Linked DNA regions of Homo sapiens: region 1 is linked to region 2. Evidence: fine-mapped expression QTL. A gene starts in region 2. The other region holds a variant in brackets. All regions are shown on one strand. Distances are between the middles of the regions. Region 1 has its middle 4.9 kb from the start of CROCC2. Region 2 holds the start of UICLM (up-regulated in colorectal cancer liver metastasis).

What was found. PIP is the estimated chance that this variant, and not a neighbour inherited with it, causes the effect.
Region 1: its variant is the best candidate, but not a certain one, in a credible set for the expression of UICLM in stomach (GTEx, PIP 0.55).

Annotation. Positions count from the first base shown.
Region 1 is chr2:240,896,593-240,906,298 of GRCh38, forward strand. It overlaps a transcript of MAB21L4 not described here. Among named protein-coding and RNA genes, the nearest start is that of CROCC2, 4.9 kb to the right of the region's middle. RefSeq lists enhancers at 100-735, 5,584-6,085, 6,086-6,585, 8,397-8,897. The variant G/A (reference allele first, on the strand shown) is at 4,236.
Region 2 is chr2:240,963,213-240,972,918 of GRCh38, forward strand. It overlaps UICLM (up-regulated in colorectal cancer liver metastasis), which reads right to left and starts at 4,239. Exons shown (of 9, transcript NR_033841.1): 1 at 4,115-4,239; 2 at 777-964; 3 at 52-534. It overlaps CROCC2 (ciliary rootlet coiled-coil, rootletin family member 2), which reads left to right. Exons shown (of 32, transcript NM_001351305.2): 21 at 344-561; 22 at 1,254-1,413; 23 at 2,169-2,306; 24 at 2,424-2,781; 25 at 3,013-3,197; 26 at 4,133-4,253; 27 at 4,917-5,050. RefSeq lists an enhancer at 1-258.

The DNA of each region.
Region 1 (9,706 bases), 67 kb before region 2:
AGGCTGCCTGGAAGGCTGGGAACCTGGAGGCTGCGTCTCTGCAATGTTCCCCTCAGACACCTGTGCCCGGCTTACAGGCTGCAGTCCTGGCATGGCTCCTGCCTCTGCCCCAGCTGTGCATCCAGCCATCTGGGCCCTGGACCCCTGGGCTACCAGTCCCCACCCCACCCCACCCCACCCTGCCCAGCCTCCAACCTGAGAGGAGCTGGCACCCACCTAGCCTGGGAGCTGGAGCTCGTCTGGTTCTGGAGAAAAGCAGTCTCCGTGGCTCCACCTCACCCAGGTGGAGAAACTCGCCCCACCATCCCCCTCCAGCACCTGCACCAGGTACCCTGCCAGCCCCGCCCCCCTCCCCTGCTCAGGGCCGTGCAAGTCCCAACCAGCAGGGAGCCGCCCCATCGACCCTTGGCCCTGCCAGCTGGCCGAGTGCATCGGGTGCTCAGCCACAGGGGTGTCTGCAAACAGTGAACATGGAGATGGCCCCACAGGGGCGTCGTGGAGATGCTGCCCCTGTAGCCACCGCACGTGGGCCTCTCACCCCCCGGGGAGCTGCATCTGAGTCAGAGCTGTGGGCAGAACCAGGATCCCAGGAGGGGTGGGGCAGGGGGCAACAGCCACTCACTTCCTGGTGCTTGGAAGCCCCTATGAGGGGCTGCAGCCCAGTGAGCGGGTCTCTGCTTCCATGCCTCCCAGGACAGGGAGCTCACCACCTCACAGGGTAGCCCACGGTCAAGCGAGAGACAGATATCCCTCCTCCAAGCTGGCCCACTCCTGTTCCCTGGAGTTGCTTAGAGCACGTGTCCCCCTCCCCGAGGGCAGCCATTCAGGTTCAAGGCCCCATTTGTCCTGGGCCCTCACCCACGGCCTGCCTAGGTCCCCACACACAGCCGTGTGCCACACTCCTCCATCTCCACAGGACTCTGGCCTGGGGGAGGTGGACGCTGCTGCAGGGCAGCTGGGGTCCTACCCCTCACCCTCGGCCGCAGTGGCCCAGGGAGCTCATCTGCCTGTTCTGGGCCTTGGCTTCAACATCTGTGATTTGATGACACCTTCAGTGTCCCAGCTCCTCCTTCCCAGGAACCTCCCGGTGTTCTGAATTCGCCCAGGAGACCCCCAACCACACCCCAATCTACCCAAAGTGCCCAGGGGCTCTGAGCCATGGGAGGGGCTCGGCTTCTCAGCCCCCAAGCTGCTCCCTCCAGTGGCCACAGAGCAGGGCCCTTCTCCCTCGGGAGCGGCCCCCAGGCTTTGCATCCTCCTTTGCCCCTAAAGCCCCCTCTCCACTGCTGTCAACACCAAGAGCACAAGACCATGTCCCCCCTTTCCTCTCTTCAGCAGGGGATTCCACCTGGCTGACACCCTGTCCTGTCCTTCGCTGGCTCTGGCCTCCTGGCTCCCACCAGTTCCTGAGCTGAATCCAGCTGGTTGCCCCAAGGGACCCCACTCTCTCCACCTGTGCCCCAGCTGAGGTCAGAGCCTCTGATGGGCCAGGCCCCATCCTTGCCCCTTGGCCCTTCTGGCAGGTGGTGAATGACATGGTGAGCTCCCTATGGCTGGAACGGTGTCACACTCCTCAGTGTACCCTAGAGCCAGGCACGATGCCAGGCACACAGGAGCATGTGGAGTACACCAGGGAACTGTGGACAAGCAAAGGTCCCCGGGAAGCTGGACCTGTGGGAGAGAGAGGAGAGCCGCTGCTGACGGAGGGGATGCGGGCACCCGCCCTGGACGGCTGGGCAGCTTTGACCACAAAGGGGCCAAGTGCTCCAGAGGCCTTCAGGCAGCCACTAGCCACAGTGCACCCAGGACTCCAACTCTGACCCCAGGAGGGTAGCGTGGTGAGGGTGGGGAGGGTCAGAGAAACCAGACGTGTCCTGGGGCCTTGGCAACTCAAGAAGGGGTTCCTTGGCACCTGTGGCAACCGCAAATGCTCAGATGGGTGTTGATTCAGTCTCTCAGTAGAGCTCAGGGCCAGAGCACGGATCCTGTATTTCAGGAAGTCCCGGATGTGCTGGGAAAGGCGGGGTGGGAAGCAGACATTCCGGCCTGAACAGAGTCCCAGGGCTGAACCTAGGGAAGCAACAGGGGCACACCCTGAGCCGTGGGGGCTCCACGCAGCTGCAGCCCACAGCAGGGGCATGTTTCCAGGGGTGCGACAGACCACGGCGGAGGTAAAATGACAGAAGTGAATTCTCACAGCTCTGGAGGCAGACGTCCAAGAGCATGGTGTTGTGTGGCTGGGCTCCCTCCGGAGGCTCCAGGGAAGCGCAGCTCCCACCTCTCCCAGCTCCAGTGCAGCCGCGTTCCTTGGCCACGTCTCTCCATCTCCGTCCTCACGTGGCCCTCTCCTGTGGGCAGCTGTGCTATCTCTTTCTGCTTCTCTTACAAGGACACTGGGGAGACCATTTAGGGCCACCAGGCCGTCCCAGATGATCTCATCCCATAGGCCTCCCACAGTTCAGTCTGTTACCACGTAAGATCTCAATTCACCCACGGTTCAGTCTGTTACCGTGTAAGGCCACACTCTCTCCTGTGCTTTATAAGGTCCTGTTCACAGGTTCTGGGGACTAGGAGGTGGCTGTTCCTCAGCCAGCTACGGTCAGCAGCCCCCATACCACCGCGTGCCAGGAGCCCTGCCAGGGCGCTGCCTGCAGGGACCCTGTGCTTGCTGCCCCTCCCCTAGCCCAGCCACCTGTTTGGGAACAGTGGGCACAGCTCTGTGCAGCCTCAGGCATGCAAAAGCAACCAAGACAGGAGTCTCCAGCCGAGGTCTACACCAGCCACCAATGCCTGCAGTACTCCGGGAAGGAGACCCTTCTTCTGCATCGGGCCCTTCTCTCCAGGACACTGTGGTCCGATTCAGCCAAGGTGCCCAGAGTACCTGCCAGGCCTGCTCAGGCTTAGGTGCGGATGCAGAAAAGTCAGACTTGAGCAGACGAGCTTGGCACCATGGTGTGGCCTGAGCAAGTCGCTGCCCCGCCTGGGCTCCAGGTCCTCAACGGACAGTGAGGAGTCCACAGGAGACAGACTCTCAGACAGAATCCAGCCGCCCAGCGCCCAGACGCCCTTTACGCAGATGCCTCTGCGGGGAAGCAGCTTCCGTGCTGACATGAGCAGTCTGGACTTCAGGATAAAGCTGCAATGCTCACCACGAGGGACAAACCCGCGTCCTGACGCCCAGAGCACATGCCCGGCCCCTGCGGCCTCCCCTTCATGGCCTAACTCTGCATCAGGGTGGCGAATAAAATGCAGGACGCCCAGCTGTTAGGATTAATCTGAAGTTCAAATCTAATTTGCATGGCACACAAACATTTATTGTTGTTGATCTGGAGTTGGAATAGAACAGGGATCCCTGTATTTCCACTGCTAAGCCTGGCAGCCCCCCTCGGAGCAGCACTGAGCGGTAGGGGTGAACCCCCGCTGGGAGGAGCAAAGCAAAGAAGCAGGGGCTGGGGGAGGAAGGAGGTGATGGGCAGTTACGCCCCAGGTGGACGGAGATGGCTGGGGAACAGTCAGGTGTGTGGCGGGGTGGGTGGGGTCGTGGGCTGGGGGCTACTTTGGACCACCCTGAGGAGCTGAGCCGCATGGGGCTGAGGGCGGGCTGATCCCTCACCTGGAAAATCCAGTGGGGAGCAGACATTGGAGCAGACTCATTTTTCTGAGGCAGGCTCAGCCCAGGACAGGGGTTGGGCAGGTGTCCCGGGGAGAAGGAAGCTCGACGGCACAGGGGTGGGTGGAGGGCGGTGTGAGAGAGGGGAAGGGGGTGTTCTCTCAGTGGTGGCATGGAGACCGCTCACCTGGGCACACGGGGACACCAGCTCCGTCTGTCCGGGGCTCCAGTCGCCAGCTCAGGGCCAGACCACAGGCTGCAGCTCCCCTGGAACGTGCAGCTGGGTGGGGGAACCCTCTAGGTCTCCCCAGGTGCTGGCCACAGTGGGTTTTGTTTTGCTTGGTGGTTGGCGTTTTAGTTTTTTACATTTTGGTAAATAAACATGACTTTTACCATCTTGACCACCTTTAAGTGTGTGGCTCAGCGCCATGAAGAACATTCGTGTTGCGGCGCGGCCATTGTCACCGTCAGTCTCCAGAGCTCGTCTCATCTTCCAGGCTGAGACTCTGTGCCTGCTCCACACTGACTCCTGCCCCTCCCCCAGCCCCTGGCTCTCACCATACTACCTTCCGTTTCTAGGGCTTGGAGCGCTCCTGGGACCTCAGGTAAGCGTCGGCCTTAGCAC[G/A]CGCTTATTTCACCTGGCGTTATATCCTCAGGGTTCTTCCAGATTGTGGCATGTGTGAGAATTTCCTTCCTTTTAAAGGCGGAGTAATGTTCCACGGTGGGGACGGACCACATCATCTGTGAACAGACACCTGGGCTCCTTCCACCATCGGCTGCAGTGCAAATGCTGCTATAAACACAGGGGTATGAATATCTCTTTGAGTCTCTGCTTTCAGTTCCTTGGGGTATATGCCCAGAAGTGGGTTCCTGGATCATATGGGAACTCTGTTTAATTTTCTGAGGATTTGTCACACCATCGCCACTGCAGTGCACGAGAGCCCTGGCTTCTCCACGTCCTCCCCAGCACTCATCCTCTGCGTTCTGGGTAAGAGCCATCCCAGGGGTTGTGAAGTGCTGACGTGCTGTGGTTTTTGATTTGCATTTCTCGGATGAGGCGACTCTGAGTGTCTTTCACATGCCTGTTGGCCATGTGTGTATCTTCTTTGGAGAAACGTCTGTTCAGGTCTTTCGCTCATTTTTAATTGTGTTGTTTGTTTTCTTGTTGTTGGGTTGTAGGAATTCTTTTTTTTTTTTTTTTTTTTTTTTTTTAGACAGAGTCTCCCTCTCACTCAGGCTGGAGTGCAGTGGCGCCATCTCGGCTCACTGTAACCTCTGCCTCCCAGGTTCAAGCAATTCTCATGCCTCAGCCTCCTGCGTAGCTGGGATGACAGGCGCACGCCACCAGGTCCAGCTAATTTTTTTGTATTTTTTTAGTAGAGACGGGGTTTGGCCAGGCTGGTCTCGAACTCCTGACCTCAGGTGACCTACCTGCCTTGGCCTCCCAACATGCTGGGATTACAGGTGTGAGCCACCACGCTTGGCCAGAATTCTTTATAAATTCTCAATACTAATCCCCTATCAGATATAAAATTGGTAAATATTTTCTCCCATTCTGTGGGTTTTCACTTTCTTCATAGCATCCTTTGATGCACAAGTTTTCAATTCTGATGCAGTTCAATTTATCTATTTTTTTCTTTCATTGTCTGTGCATTTGATGTCATATCCAAGAAATCACTGCCAAATCCTGTGTCATGAAGCTTTTGCCTACATTTTCTTCTAAGCTCTGTATGGCTTGGGCTCTTACCTTTGGATCCCTGGGCAGGCCAGTAGCCCCAAGCCTCCTCTGGTCCCCAGGCAGGAGGTCCCTCCCCAGGCACCTTTCTTCACTGTGCTGTGGTATTCAGCCTCTGCCACGCTGACAGAAAGCACCAGAGAGCAGGGTCCCCAGGCAGCCCTGCAGCCTCTCCCAGGACCCAGGTCCCCCAGGGCCTGCCACGGCAGCATCCACCGGCAACCCCTCACGTGGATAAACACAGGGTGGGTGAAGAGCGAGGTCTTCTCTCCCACCCCACAGAACCTCTCAGGACCTGCCTGCGCCCACAACCATCTGGATGCCCCCTAAAACCCAGCACATGTATCCAGCTGGCCTCTCCTCTCAGGAGAGTGGAAAAGACCTTGAAAATCACACCAAATGCATTGTTCTCCCGCATCAGACCACTTGCCTCACCAGCCACCACCCCTGCCCTCAGCTGGCCTCCTGTCCACGCCCGACAGATGGGGGTGGGACGGTGCCACTCGGCTGCTGTGTGCAGAATGGGGTGGCACTTCCATGCCCTCTGAAGAAAGTTCATGTGCAGGGCAGCTCTGCAGAGAGGGTAGGCAGTGGACAGAATGTGGCGCCCTCTGTCCCAGCCTCACAGCCTCCAGGGCTGCCCGTCCTGCCGTAATCACACTGGGATCTTTCCTGCCTTCCATCACTGTCTCAGCTCATTCAGTGACTCTGCACCCCCCAGGGCCAGCGTCTCCTCCTCAGAGCCAAGTCCACACCTGGCAGAGTAGACTGTCTGAGAGGACAGCCAGTGACTGCTCAAGAGGAGTGGCTCCATAGCTCCCCGGGGCTGACCTGGGTCACAGCCTCTTTGGGTTCTGTCCGAGGCACATCCCCTGCTGGTGCTAGACAGGAAAAGACACCCATGGCCGGCTGTGTGGGTGCCTGGCGGCCAGAGTGTCTGTGCCTGCTCATCATCGGTTCCTGTGTCCCCATGTGGGCCCAGCACAGCCAGGATTAGGGACTGTCCCCAAGGAGATAAGGCTGTAACTCCTTATCTCCTTGATAAGGAGATACAACGTTATCCTTGATAAGGATAAGCAAGGTTTCCTGTTTCAAGGGAACAATGACAAAACCGGTGATGGCGTATCTACAGACAGGTGTTCCTCTGAGCCCAGGAGGGTTCTTCCTCAGCCTCCAAAGCCAGGCAGGTGGGGCAGGACAAGGAGGACCGCATCTAGAATGGCCATGGGTGCCGAGTACTTTCCCCAGTCCCAGGGAGGGAGGCGTGAGGTCCAGAGAACAAGAGCTCAACCCCCATCAGGCTGTGGGTCAGGACTGGGCAGGGCCCCCCGAGCCCCGCCCTCCCGAGAGCCCACCCCACAGAACGCCTGCACTCAGGGAGGACCCTCTATCCCATCCTCCACTGTCCCAGGGCGTTCCCCGGGGGGCCCAGCCAGGCTCCGGCCAAGGCCTACCCTGTGGGTTCTTCTAGTCTAGCCATGGCCCTGGTCTGGGAGCCCCATAATGGACACCCCGCAGTGAGGCCTTGGGGGGCATGCACGGGGCTGGGCCAGCCCTCGCGCCCTGGAAAGGCATCCTGGGGGGACTCCGGGCCACCGCCGGCAGGCGTGGGCTTTCCTGTACAGACACAGGGGGGCAGGGTTAAGGGGGAGAAGCAGCAAAGGGGGAGAAGTGGAAAAGAAACGAGGATGCGTCCGGTGGAGCAGCCAGGACCCCAAGGCTAAGAGGAGGTGGGCGGCAAGGAGGGCCTGCCTTGGGTCAGGGCCCCACCAAGAGGAGGGACCAACCTTCATGGTTCACCAGGACTCTCCCAGGAAATCCCTCCTCCGTGGGCAAACCCTGCAGTGACTGAGGAAAAGGGGCACGGGAGGACATCTGGGAAAATCATGGACTTGGAGCTGCCGCAGGCGGGGGAGGCTGAACTGCAGGCGGCCACGCCCACCCCAGATGGCACAGAGGCTCCAGGCGATGCCCACCTGGACCGACAAAATCCCATCCTCACGTTTGGTCTCGTCCAGGGCAACTCCACAGCCAGAAGGAACTTTCTAAAACTCAGACAGGCCGGGCGCAGTGGCTCACGCCTGTAATCCAGCACTTTGGGAGGCCAAGGCGGGAGGATTGCTTGAGGTCAGGAGTTCAAGAGCAGCCTGGTCAACATGGTGAAACCCCATCTCTACTAAAAATACAAAAATAAGCTGGGCATGGTGGCGAGTGCCTCTAATCCCAGCCACTCTGGAGGCTGAAGCAGGAGAATCACTTGAACCTGGTGGGGGGAGGTTGCAGGGAGCCAAAATAGGGCCACTGCACTCCAGTCTGGGAGACAGAGCGAGACTCCATCTCAAAAATAAATAAATAAATAAAAATAAAATTAAACACAGATGGGAGCCCCTGCCCACCAGCCCTCCTGAGAGCCGTCACCTGCAGAGGCCACAGGGGGTGTCTCCACCTGGCTGGGCCCAGTGCACGTCACCTTTGGCCTGGATGTACGGCTTCAGGTCAGGGTGTCTCTCCAACACCCCGACTCAGGCCACCGGGCCGCCCCTGAACATGGGCATCTGTGTCAGGACTGACACAGGACTTGCTTCTGGCATATGAGGTCTTATCTCCACCTATCCAAGAGGCCCGCATGGGAGATCACACTAGCCTCCCAGCCACTCCCCACCGTTCACAGGTCCACACGGATGCCCCTTCCTCACTCCACCCGCCCTGCCCCCAGCAGGAACTCTCACCAGAGGCCAGGGCCACACCCTCTAAGCCCTGACCCACCTCAGGGGAGTTCAGCGGAGCCCCAGCAGGAAACGCTGCCCCTCCCCACTCAGGCTGAGGCATGGAGGGCAGGACTCTCCATGGCCACAGGGCCTCCCAGGACTCTGAGGGTGGGCGACCGGCAGTCTTGGGTCCCTGGGGGATCTGGAGGCTGCTCAGGGAGGGGCCTAGCCCATGGAGTGGGTGTCCTCAGTCTGGACCTGAAGCCAGAGGTCATGCTTGGGCCAGAAGCACGAGGTTCGGAAGGACTGACCAGGCCCCTGGCACCCCAGGGACTGTCCAGTGAAGCCCAGCCCGGATGCCCATGGGGCCATGTCTGGCCAGAGAGCCTGGCCTGTCCCTGCAGGGCCACCCTGGAGGTTGTCCTCAGGAGTGGGGGTGAACAGAGCACAGGTGTTTCTCTGGGAGGGCTCCTTTTGAGTACAGGTGCCTCTGCTTCTTGAATTTCGCCTCTGAGGAGGTGGCCTGGGCCCTCAGCCCCTCTCTCGGCAGCCCCAGGGACAAACATGCTGGTCCCCCAAGTTGGCATCCACCTCCACTGCCCGGGCCCCTGTGGCCTTGCTGGGCAGGCTGCCTCCCGGTCTCCTGGGCTGGCTCCAAGAACCTGGGTCTCTGAGAGACTCGGAGATGTACCCATCCCCAGAGGCCCCTGAACAGGGCAGCCTTTCATGGGAGGGCAGCCACTCCTGCTGCAGGGCCCACCTCTGCGGCTGTCCCTTCCCCAGAGGGACTCCTGCCAGCATCAGCTCAAGGAGGTCCCAGCTCAGAATGAGGAGCCCCAGAGGGAGTGGAATGGGGCGGAAACGCTGGCATGGCTGCCTGCCAGGCACCTGACTTCATCTGAGGCCCCAGGAGGCCCAGACTCCGAGCCACAGAGCTCTGCGTCTGTAGGGACAGCCGGCCTGGGGGTGGCAGGCATGGCCCTGCTTCCCTCCCATTGCCCCACCTATGGGAAGCTGCCCTGCCCTGGCATCCAGACAGCCCCTGGCAGCCCCTGGGGTGGGAAGCCGTGGGCAAGTTCTGCAGACCCTCCACCACGCATGCTGACCAGGGACTTCTCCCCTTCGGACAGGGTGGCTGGTGGTCCTTTCCGATTCCACAGGGTGGGAAACAGTGCAGGTTCCCAGGGCAAGGGTGGACCCATGGGCAGGTGACTCTGAAGGGCTCTAGCGGGAGTCAGACTCCAGAAGGACTCACAGGTGCAAGGCCAGGAAGACAAGATTCCTTTGCCCCTCAGGCAGGCAGCGTCCCTCTCCAGGTCTCAGTCCACCACCTGCGACGACCACTACGTTCTTTGACAAATGTTTTTCAAAAGTCATAGTTTATGAGTCCAGATGAAGGAAGACCAGTGCTCTGCATGCTGCCTCTGCCCACCGTGTGTCCAGCAAGCACACGGCTCCCCCTGGAGCGAATGCGGGAGGGGGTGTCTGGGGGAAAGGCCAGCCCCTCCCAGGTGCCGTTGCTCAGGTAGACAGTTTTACCCAGGGCGTCTCCAGGTCTCCAGGCAAAACTGCTTCCAGCCAACAGCGTTCCTTTGTCCCCACAGCAACAGGGTCCTGCACTCCTGTTTCCAGGGAAACCCAGCTCTCAGCGTC
Region 2 (9,706 bases):
TGACAGTGCAGACACGTGTGCTGAGCCGCATCCCAGGTAGGCCTTGCTTACCAGTGGTCAGCGTCCTGGGGGTCCAGAGAGGCCGCAGCGTGGGGCCGGGCCCAGGGGCTCAAGGTGGGGTCTTCTGGGCTCTTAGGCTGGCCCTGCCTCAGCCCGTGGAAGCCGCCCTGCAGCCTCCGCAGCACTAGGGATTGGTGGCTCCATGGGGTGAGCAAAGCGCATGGGGACCAAGTTGGGCAGGGCACCTGTGCCTGCCACACCATGTCAGAGGCCACAGGCCCCTGTGGCTATCCCTGGAGCAGTGGTCCCCAGCGGGCCTCTAGAGCTGAATGGTCCTCCCCAGGCTGAGAGGCTGCGGGCACAGCTGACCGTGGCCCAGGAGGGACTGGCCGCACTGCGCCAGGAGCTGCAGGGCGTCGAGGAGAGCCGGGAGGGGCTGCACAGGGAGGCCCAGGAGGCCCGCCGGGCGCTGAGTGACGAGGCCCGCGAGAAGGACGTACTGTTGCTTTTCAACAGCGAGCTGCGGGCCACCATCTGCAGGGCCGAACAGGAGAAGGCCAGGTATGGCGGCCACCCAGGAGCAGCTGGGGGTGCCCTGCAGCCTGCTGCCCACCCAGGCCGTAGGGAGGATGGGGCAAGGGGGCTAGGCAGGGGCGTCCTGTTGACTTGGGCCCCACTGATGGTGGGGTAGACATGCCAAGCAGGCCTCCCGCTGCCCAGTCCAAGAGGTCTGCAATGCTGGCCAGTGCGAGGGATGGCTGAGGACATGGACACACCTGTCCCTGCCCACAGGGAGTTCCCATCCAGCAGGCAAGATAGGTCACAGGTGGCCTCCAGGAGGTGGTGCAGAGCTGGGGAGCAGAGGGAGGCCAACGGCCTGGCTGGGGCTCTAGAAAGGCCCCTGTGGGGCAGCTGGGCAGGATGGCACAGCCCTCACAGCAGGTGGCAGAGGTACCAGGCTAGGCTGGATGTTGAGCGTCCGGGAGTGTGACAGAGAGGGGGAGACAGGGAGGGATGAGGTGAGGAGGGGCTGAAGAGGTGGATAGTGGACAGGGGCCATGCGGCCGGCACCGGGACCTGGGTGGACATATGTCTGTAAGGTGACAGGGAACCCTGCAGAGGCTGAGTTTGAGGACACTGTGCAGAGTCAAGACTGGGGCCAGTGCCTCACTAGGGGAGGCAGAGACCTGCTGGGCAGCTGTGCTGGCCCCACCAGGAGGTGCGGGGGCCCCAGCCTGTGGCACCCTCGTCAGTTTTAAGCGGTCCAAGGAGGAGAAGGAGCAGAAGCTGCTCATCCTGGAGGAGGCCCAGGCGGCGTTGCAGCAGGAGGCCAGTGCACTGCGGGCCCACCTGTGGGAGCTGGAGCAGGCAGGGGGGGACGCCCGTCAGGAGCTCCGGGAACTCCACAGACAGGTAGGGCGGCAGGGAGGGGTCAACATCCAACCAGGCACCCTCCCGCCTGGTGGGTCCCGGCTCCTCCCAGGGGAGCCCCCAGCCCTGGCCTTGCTGCCGCCTTTGAACCACTCTGTCCCCAGACTTTGGGCCACGCCCTGCTCAGGCTCACAGGGTCCCTGGTTGGGTCTGTCCCCATGGGGCACAGATGACAAGACTGGAGAGGGCAAAACCAGGAATGCTTTAGCGAGGAGGAAGGGAACCATGCCCAGCAGCACACGGAAGTATCCTACATGCAACACCTTCCGGCATGCACAGCAGCACACGGAAGTATCCTACATGCAACACCTTCCGGTGGCGCTCGGGAACTCAGGCAGGCTAGAGGGGAGGCCTGGCCTCTGCAGGGCAGGGTGCTGGCAAGCCGGGTCCCCCCAAGGCCTGGCTCCCTCCTGTAATGGCGGCCTCGGGGCAGTTGGGTCCAATGCACCCCAGCCACTGCCCACACTCCCTAATCAGTGCCCACCCCGCCCCACCTGAGCCTCCTCCTTGTCCCAGGTCCTCCAAGGAGGTTCCGAGGAGGTCCCAGGTAGGTGTCTACAGAGTGGCTGAGGGTGACAACTCCCAGGGCAAGGTCCTTTGGGGCACCTTAGCCCAAGCCTCCCTAAGTGTGGCCAGCTGCCCTCAAGGGACGTGTGAGCGGAGGCAGGAGGCAGGGAGGCTGCCTGGGTTCCAGCACAGAGACCAGTGACCCTGTCCGTGCGGCCCCACGCTCCCAGGTGAGGACACTGAAGGCCGAGAACCAGAGGAGGAGTGGAGAGGCCCATGAGCTGCAGGCGCAGTGCTCGCAGGAGGTGCTGGAGCTGCGGAGGCAGGCAGCCAAGGCAGAGGCCAAGCACGAGGGTGCCCGGAAGGAGGTGGGAGGGCTGCCTGTGGTCAGAAGGGAAGGAGCTGGGCGTCGGGGAGCAGAGGGAGGAGGCCCACCCCACTTCCTCACTGTCTCCCACGGGCGCACCCCAACATCCCTCCTACAGGTCCTGGGATTGCAGAGGAAGTTGGCAGAGGTGGAGGCCGCAGGGGAGGCCCATGGACAGCGGCTCCAGGAGCACCTCCGTGAGAGCCGGGGGGCTGAGCAGACCCTCCGAGCAGAGCTGCACAGTGTCACCAGGAAGCTGCAGGAAGCCAGTGGTGTGGCTGATGCTCTCCAGGCTCGCCTGGACCAGGCCTGTCACCGAATCCACAGCCTGGAGCAGGAGCTGGCCCAGGCTGAGGGTGCAAGGCAGGATGCGGAGGCCCAGCTGGGCCGGCTGTGCTCCACGCTCCGCCGTGGCCTGGGGCTCCAGAGACAGAGCCCGTGGGCCTCCCCGGAGCAGCCTGGTTCCCCCACCAAAGGTCAGAGTCCTCAGTGGAGGCAGGCGGGCCCCTCTCCCAGCTCAGTCCCTGGCCTGGCACCTCTCTTTCAGGCCTCACAACTCACACAGTGAGGGACTCGGACAGGCAATTGTAGGAACCTGTGGCCGTCTCCCCAACCTCCCATGGCTGGGGCAGCAGAGAGGAAAGGGGAAGGGCGTGTATCTGTCACTGTGTTCCTGTCCACGACCCCTCCGCTGTCACCTCCCGCAGGCTCCGACAGCTCCCAGGCTCTCCCTGGGCAACAGGGTACCAGCCCCCCAGCCAGGCCCCACTCGCCCCTCCGATGGCCCTCGCCCACACCCGGAGGCCGCAGCTCAGAGCTCATGGATGTGGCCACCGTGCAGGACATCCTGCGGGACTTTGTGCAGAAGCTCCGGGAAGCCCAGCGGGAGCGGGTAATGGGGGCTGGGGTCCTCCCGCCCACGGCGGCACCCCCCGGGGGTCTCTGGGAAGAACACCTGCTGTCCATCCATCCGCGCGTCCCTGGGTCTGAGGGTCAGTGTCCAGGCCGTCCTGTTTGTTGTGATAAACACCAGCACCACCATGGCCCCCAAGCCCAAGTGCCTTGGGTGGCTGGAGGCCGCCCCCTTCCTTATACCAGGCTGAAAAGCCCCTGGAGCCAGGCCCTGCTGTGACACCCACCAGGGCCCAGGGTAGGGCATTCTGCAACTCATGCCACCCCTGAAGAGCTGCCGGGGCTGGGCAACTGCAGGACAGAGCCAGCAAGCTCCCCTCAATGCTCCCAAAGACCCCTCCGGTGGGGCCAAGCTCCCCAGTGGCTGCTCCTGGCTTCAGGGCTCCCACAGAACCACCCGTGAGCGGCCCCCTCCCACCTCGCTGGATGACTCCAGTGGGCAGGACTGTGGGAAAGACAGAGGCAGGCCCTGAGCCCTGGCCAGGGTCCTCTGTGCACACTCCTTCCCTTCGGGCCCACCCTCCCACCGCTGCCAGCCCCAGGGGGCAGGGTCCCGTCTGCACTCAGCCCCAAGTCCCGCCAGGGGCAGCCCCTACCGGTCCCCCTGACCACAGGCTGTGGGCCGCCACCTGCCAGCTCTCCCACACCACACCTGTGCTTGAAACCTGGACCCTTTAGGCCGAGTCTCACTGGGCGCCTCCACCTCCCCAGGCCTGCAGGTCAGCGCAGCTTCCCAGTGTGATCACCTTCCCCGCACCTTCCCCGAGCCCACGGCCCACACCACCCACTGCCCTGCCCTGCACACCTGCAGGCCAGACCGTGAGCGGCCCCAGCTGGCCCCGACCCTCTAGCAGACACCTTGGCCCTCCACCCGCCCATTGGACTGCCCCCGCTGACCTCAGTCCTTCTGCCCAGGATGACTCCCGCATCCAGATGGCGACCCTGAGCAGCCGGCTGAGCGAGGCAGAGTGCAGGTGTGCCCGGGCCCAGAGCCGCGTGGGGCAGCTGCAGAAAGCCCTGGCTGAGGCGGAAGAAGGTGACCTCCCTTGCCCTGCCCCGCCCACCCTGGGAGTGGCTGTGAGAGTGGCACCACCATGTCCCCACTGCTGCCGGCTATAAGCTTTCAGTCCCTGGGGCAGCTCGGTGGGAAGGGAGCCTGGGGGCAACACCCAAACCACCAGGCCTGGCGAGGCTGGGTCAGCGCTTGGCATCGGAGTTCTCAGCAGCGACTTCCCCAGCACAGAGGAGTGACGTCCACAGGCCCATCAGGGCCCTCCCGATCCGGCCCCCAGCATCCTCTGCCCCCCTGCCCCACCCTGGCCTCCTGCAGTTCCCACTGGGGGCCTTTGCCCTGGCTGTGCCCTCTGCCTGGCACCCTCTCCCCCAGACAGCCACACGGCTCTCCCCGGGCAGGCCCTGCCCCTCGTCACCCCCTCAGAGAGGCCCCTTCCTTCTGCCCCCCACTGCCTCACACTCACGAGTTTCTCTGCTTATTGCCCCTCAATTAAAGGAAAGAGGCAGGAGGGAAGGATGGGTGGGAAGCCGGGACCCTGGGGCAGCCCCAGGACCCTTGAGCTGCAAGGATGGACCCCCACCTCCACGTGGGAGCCAGTCACTCAAGTCCACAGAGCCCTGCATTGCCTGCCTGTGACCTGGGAGGGGCATGGGGGCCCCTCAAGCCACCCTGCTTGCCCCACAGGCCAGCGCCGGGTGGAGGGCGCGCTGAGCAGCGCCCGGGCAGCACGTGCCCTGCAGAAGGAGGCGCTCCGCAGGCTGGAGTTGGAGCACCTGGCGAGCGTGCGTGCGGCAGGCCAGGAGAAGCGGCGGCTGCAGGTGGGGCAGGCGGCAGGGTGGGTCCCAGGTGGGGCACAAGAACAAGGCCTCTCGGTCACCCTCACACCCTGCAGGGAGGCCACAGGGCCGGGAGGTGGGAGAGAGGGGTCTGCAAGGGCTTCTGTGGGTGTTCGGGGCTGGAGCCAGCCCGGTGGGGCCCTGGGGCAGAGGTGCAGGCTGGGCTGTGGCAGGCGGCTTTGGGGTCATCGGGACTGGGGTCGTCCTTAGCAGAGCTGTCCTTACGGTGGTTCTAGCCCTTGTTTTACAGGTTGGGGAAACTGAGGACTTGGCCCTGGGGGCACAGCGAGTGGGGGGCAGAGCCCCAAGTCTAGGCCCTTTCTTCTTGCTGAGGCCACAGCGGCAGGCATGGGGCGGCCCTGGCCCAGCCTTGGGGCTCTTTATAGGGTCACACTGTCCTGCTCCAAGACCACTTTTCATTCCATGTGGCTCAGACACAGAAGGGGCCTCTCAGGAAGGGCTGAAGTCAGTGTCCCTACATGCCAGGCTTTGTGCTGGGGAGGTGCCCGCTGGGTCTGAGGTTTTCAGGTGAGGAGCCTGGGCCTGGAAATGGAACGGCCAGGCAGTGGTGGATGGAGGCCTGGCCCAGGCCTTGGTCCTCAGTGCTGGTGGGGAGCCCCAGGCCCAGCCAGCCCAGCCCCACAGGTCCAAGCAGCCCCCGGGGTGTCCTGAGATCCTCTTGTCAGGACTGGGCCAGGGGACAACTGTTCCGCTCCAGAGAGCTCCCTTGCAGGCCCCAGGGGCCAGAGAACAGCGTGCCTGGCTGAGGCTCCCCAGGGCAACTGCCCCCAGGCGTCCCTCAACCCATTCTGGAAAGAGGGGGCCAGCACAGTGCAGAGGAGACAGGGCACAGAGACCGGGGAGCCACTCCTCTCCAAGTGTCCCTCCAATGAGGGAGGCCTGGGTGAGCCATCAGGAGGGACGGCCTTGCAGGTTGGCAGAAAGGCCCCAAGGGCAGCCGGCCAGGCCTGTGCTGTTCCACGCGGGGCTCAGCCCCGGAGCCTGGTGGCCCTCAGAGGCCACCAGAGGGCTGTCAGCACTCAGACTAGCAGGCAGGCTCTGAGTTCCCAGTAGGCCCTGAGCCTCTGAGGAGGTGGCTTCTGCAGGGGAGAGGGGAGGGGGCAGAGAGCAGAGGCCAGGCTGCAGAGAGAGCAAGGTCCTCATTAGCCAGCAGTTTGGAAATTTCTGTTTTGGAAAGACCCTTCTGGTGACAGCTGCTGGGGCAGTAAGACTAGAGACGTCTGTGGAAAGACCCAGGCGGCCTGGCCAGGGATGGGGTCAGGACTTGTGAGATGCCCAGGAGATGGGGGCACCTGAGAAGTCAGGGGACCTGGAGCGGGCTGAGTTGGGCCAAGTTTCATTTTATGTGTATAGTCACATGTATGTCTCCCACATGCATGCAGAAATAACGTGCTCTGCTCACAGGTTACACATTTTGAAAGAGACCTTCTATTTTATTTTATTTTTTGAGATGGAGTCTCATTCTGTCACCCAGGCTGGAGTGCAGTGGCACCATCTTGGCTCACAGCAACCTCCGCCTCCCAGGTTCAAGTGATTCTCCTGCCTCAGCTTCCCAAGTAGTCGGGATTACAGGCACCCGCCAATACACCTAATTTTTTTGTATTTTTAGTAGAGACAGGTTTCACACCATGTTGGCCAGACTGGTCTTGAACTCCTGACCTTAAATGATCTGCCTGCCTCAGCTTCCCAAAGTGCTGGGATTACAGGTGTGAGCCACCGTGCCCAGTTCTGAAATACACCTTTTAAATCAACCTTTACAAATGCATTATTCAAATAGGCCACATTTGATCCAGTTCCTGAATTTATCAAAACTAAGGATGATGTGTTGAATTTTCCCACTACAATTCTTTTTGTCAATGTCTCCTTTTATTTCCAAGGGTATTTGACTTCTAGATTTCTTGACTCTTCGAATTTGAAGTTTCTCGGTTAACTTTTCCTGAGTGGCCTGCATGTCCTGTGACTGCTGTTTGTCTTCCTCTTGGCCTCTGCTTTTTTGGTGTTTGTGGTTTCAGCCTTCATTTCATCAGCCTGGCTCTGGTTTCAATCTCACCTTAGAGTCTCTGCCTCTTCTGGGGGAATTTGTCCCATGTAGAAGTTTTGTGGTAACCCATGCTCTGTTTTTCCTTAGGTTGTTCATAGGACACTTTCTCCTTTCCGTGTGTCTTTCCTGCCTGTCCTGTCTTGCATGGCAGGGATGATTTATTCATCCTCTTTTCCCTTAGCATTTGCATCCAGGGCATCTTATGGCTGGGCCAGGACAGCGCCCTGCCCCCTCCAGGGGCCGAGGGTCTTGTCCCTTCCCTTCCCAGCTGCACTGCTTCCACCTGCGCCCTAGGAGCTAAGACTTTTGCTCCTTAGAATTTCCTGCTCTGGACAATCCCCTCTTCCAAACCTGCTCCCCAGGGGGGCTCTGGGCTCTCCTGCCTGTAGGTTGAACTTCTCTTGGTGTCTGTGGACCCCAGGGCTCTCTACCCACAGCAGCCCACACCTGGTGCACTACTTTTTGCAACAAATTACTGATGACTTAACCCCACTTTTGAGCCCCCAGTCCCATAGGTGAGAAGCCTGGCATGGTGTGACTGGCGTCTCCCCTCTGGGTCTCACAGTCATGGGGTAGGCTGGGCCACCCGAGGCCACGGGGAAGAGTCCTCCTCTGGGTTCATCCAGGTGCTTCTGGGGGCATCCGGGCTCATCCCAGCGTGGCGAGTCCAGCTCTTTGCGTTGTCGGGCTGAGCCTCATTTCTGTGCGGTCGGCCAAGGGCTCCCCACTCCTAGCCAGGGGCTTCCTTGGCTGTGCCACAGTGTGGCAGCAGCACCTGCACCCCACGCCCCCCATCTCCACGTGCCTCACACCTCATGGCTCCCTTCTGCCGACACCCGAGGGTGTGCGTGAGTGGGTGAGACCCACCTGGGTGGTCACCCTTTGCTTAACTCAGAGTCAACTCTTCACATCCACAAAGTCCCCTGGCCATGAATCCAACGTAATCACAGGATAACGTCAGGGCCAGAGCTCACAGGGCCCTCTGAGGGCTCTGCCTGCCACGTGGGTCCGAGCAACATGTTACCAGCTTTGGTGAACTCCATGCCGCTGGTTTGATGGGTGGGGCCGCTCATGGCATCTCTCCTGGAGGGGCCTGGCTTTCATTCGATTCCAGGCTCCTTGTTTGCCTCTGACCTTGAGTTCAGATGGGTTCAAGAAATGTGCGGATTCCCTGGGTTCTTTGTGTTTTTCTTGTCAGTGCTCTTTCCAGAGTGGCAGCCAGAGGCCTCCTTGTTTTTGAAATTCAAAAATGTCACCAAAATGTGGGCGTGTCGGCCCCTTTCATTATTTTTACCTACCCCGGCAAACCCTCCCTACTTGCAGAATCAAATCTACCTTCTGTTTACAGAGGTTCCTTCCACTGTAAAAAAAACATCTCTTCTCCTTCTCCCTCTTCTCTGTTCTTTTGTCCTGGAATTCTCAGCATCCCAATACTGATCCCCTGGACCTGTCCTCCTGGCTTCAATCTTGAATTTCTCCTTGTCATCTCGGTTTTCCCCAAGGTCCCAGGAGAATTTCAGGTCTTACTCCTACTCAGCTAATCTCAGGATCTGCCGCATCTCGTCTGCTGCTCCTGTCCCCACGGTGGCCTCGTTCGGCCTGAGTTTTCATTTTGGATTGTCCACCTCAAGACCCCTGCCCTGTCCTCACCTTGAGAACACTAGTTACCATCTTCTGGTGTGTGTCAGTAGCTCACTTCTCTGTTTAATTAGAGACTCTCAGATCTGATTCCTCAGATCGACTTTATTTTCTCAAACCCCAGTGGATACTAGTTTTGTGATTTTTTTCCTTTGCGTGTCTTTAAAGAAAGGAGTTCTGGCCTCGTTTGAAGTTGGGAGTGGAGAGGAACCCATCAGGGACTTTATGTGTCCCCATCCAAATATTTCAGGCTCAAAAGAAAGGCAGAGAGAAGGGTTCCAAGATCCTGCAGCCACAGGGAGCCATGGGGAATATGGGGAGCCAGCAGTGGAGTTCTGGCCCTCCCGGAGCTGTTCTGTTCCTGAAGTGGGCGGGGTGGGAGCGGCGCTCTCCGGTGCACGGTCACGGTGCGGTCCTCCACCTCCCCAGCTGCTTGCCTCACAGGGATGGAGGGCTCCCCGGGTCCCCCAGCCACAGCAACCCTCTTCCCTGAGGTCCTGGTAGTACAGAGTTGCCTCCCCAACACCCCTGCAGCTCCCTCCAGCCCTCGCCCTTCTGAGTCAGGGTATGGGGACATGGGGGTCCAACTTTGGGTCTCCACAATGAGTGCAGAGGACGTCTCTGACATTGACCAGACCTTTGTCTGTATGCATTTTTCTGCTTGGTCTAGAATTTGCTCAACTTTTTTAGTGAAATGTGCTAAAATCTATCATTATGGTGTCAACGTTTTCTTACAATTCTGGCAATTATTATTTCACCCATTTTTAGGCCAAGTTGGTCTCATCTGCCCTCGGGAGTCCTCCAAGTCCCTGGTCTCCAGCTCTGAGGAAAGTTTTTCCCAACTTTTTGTAATCTATGAGTCATTGTGATAGGTTTCTGGATTCAGACACACCTAAGTCACCAGAGGCCCCCGCTTTTGACACACAGCAAACCCAGGC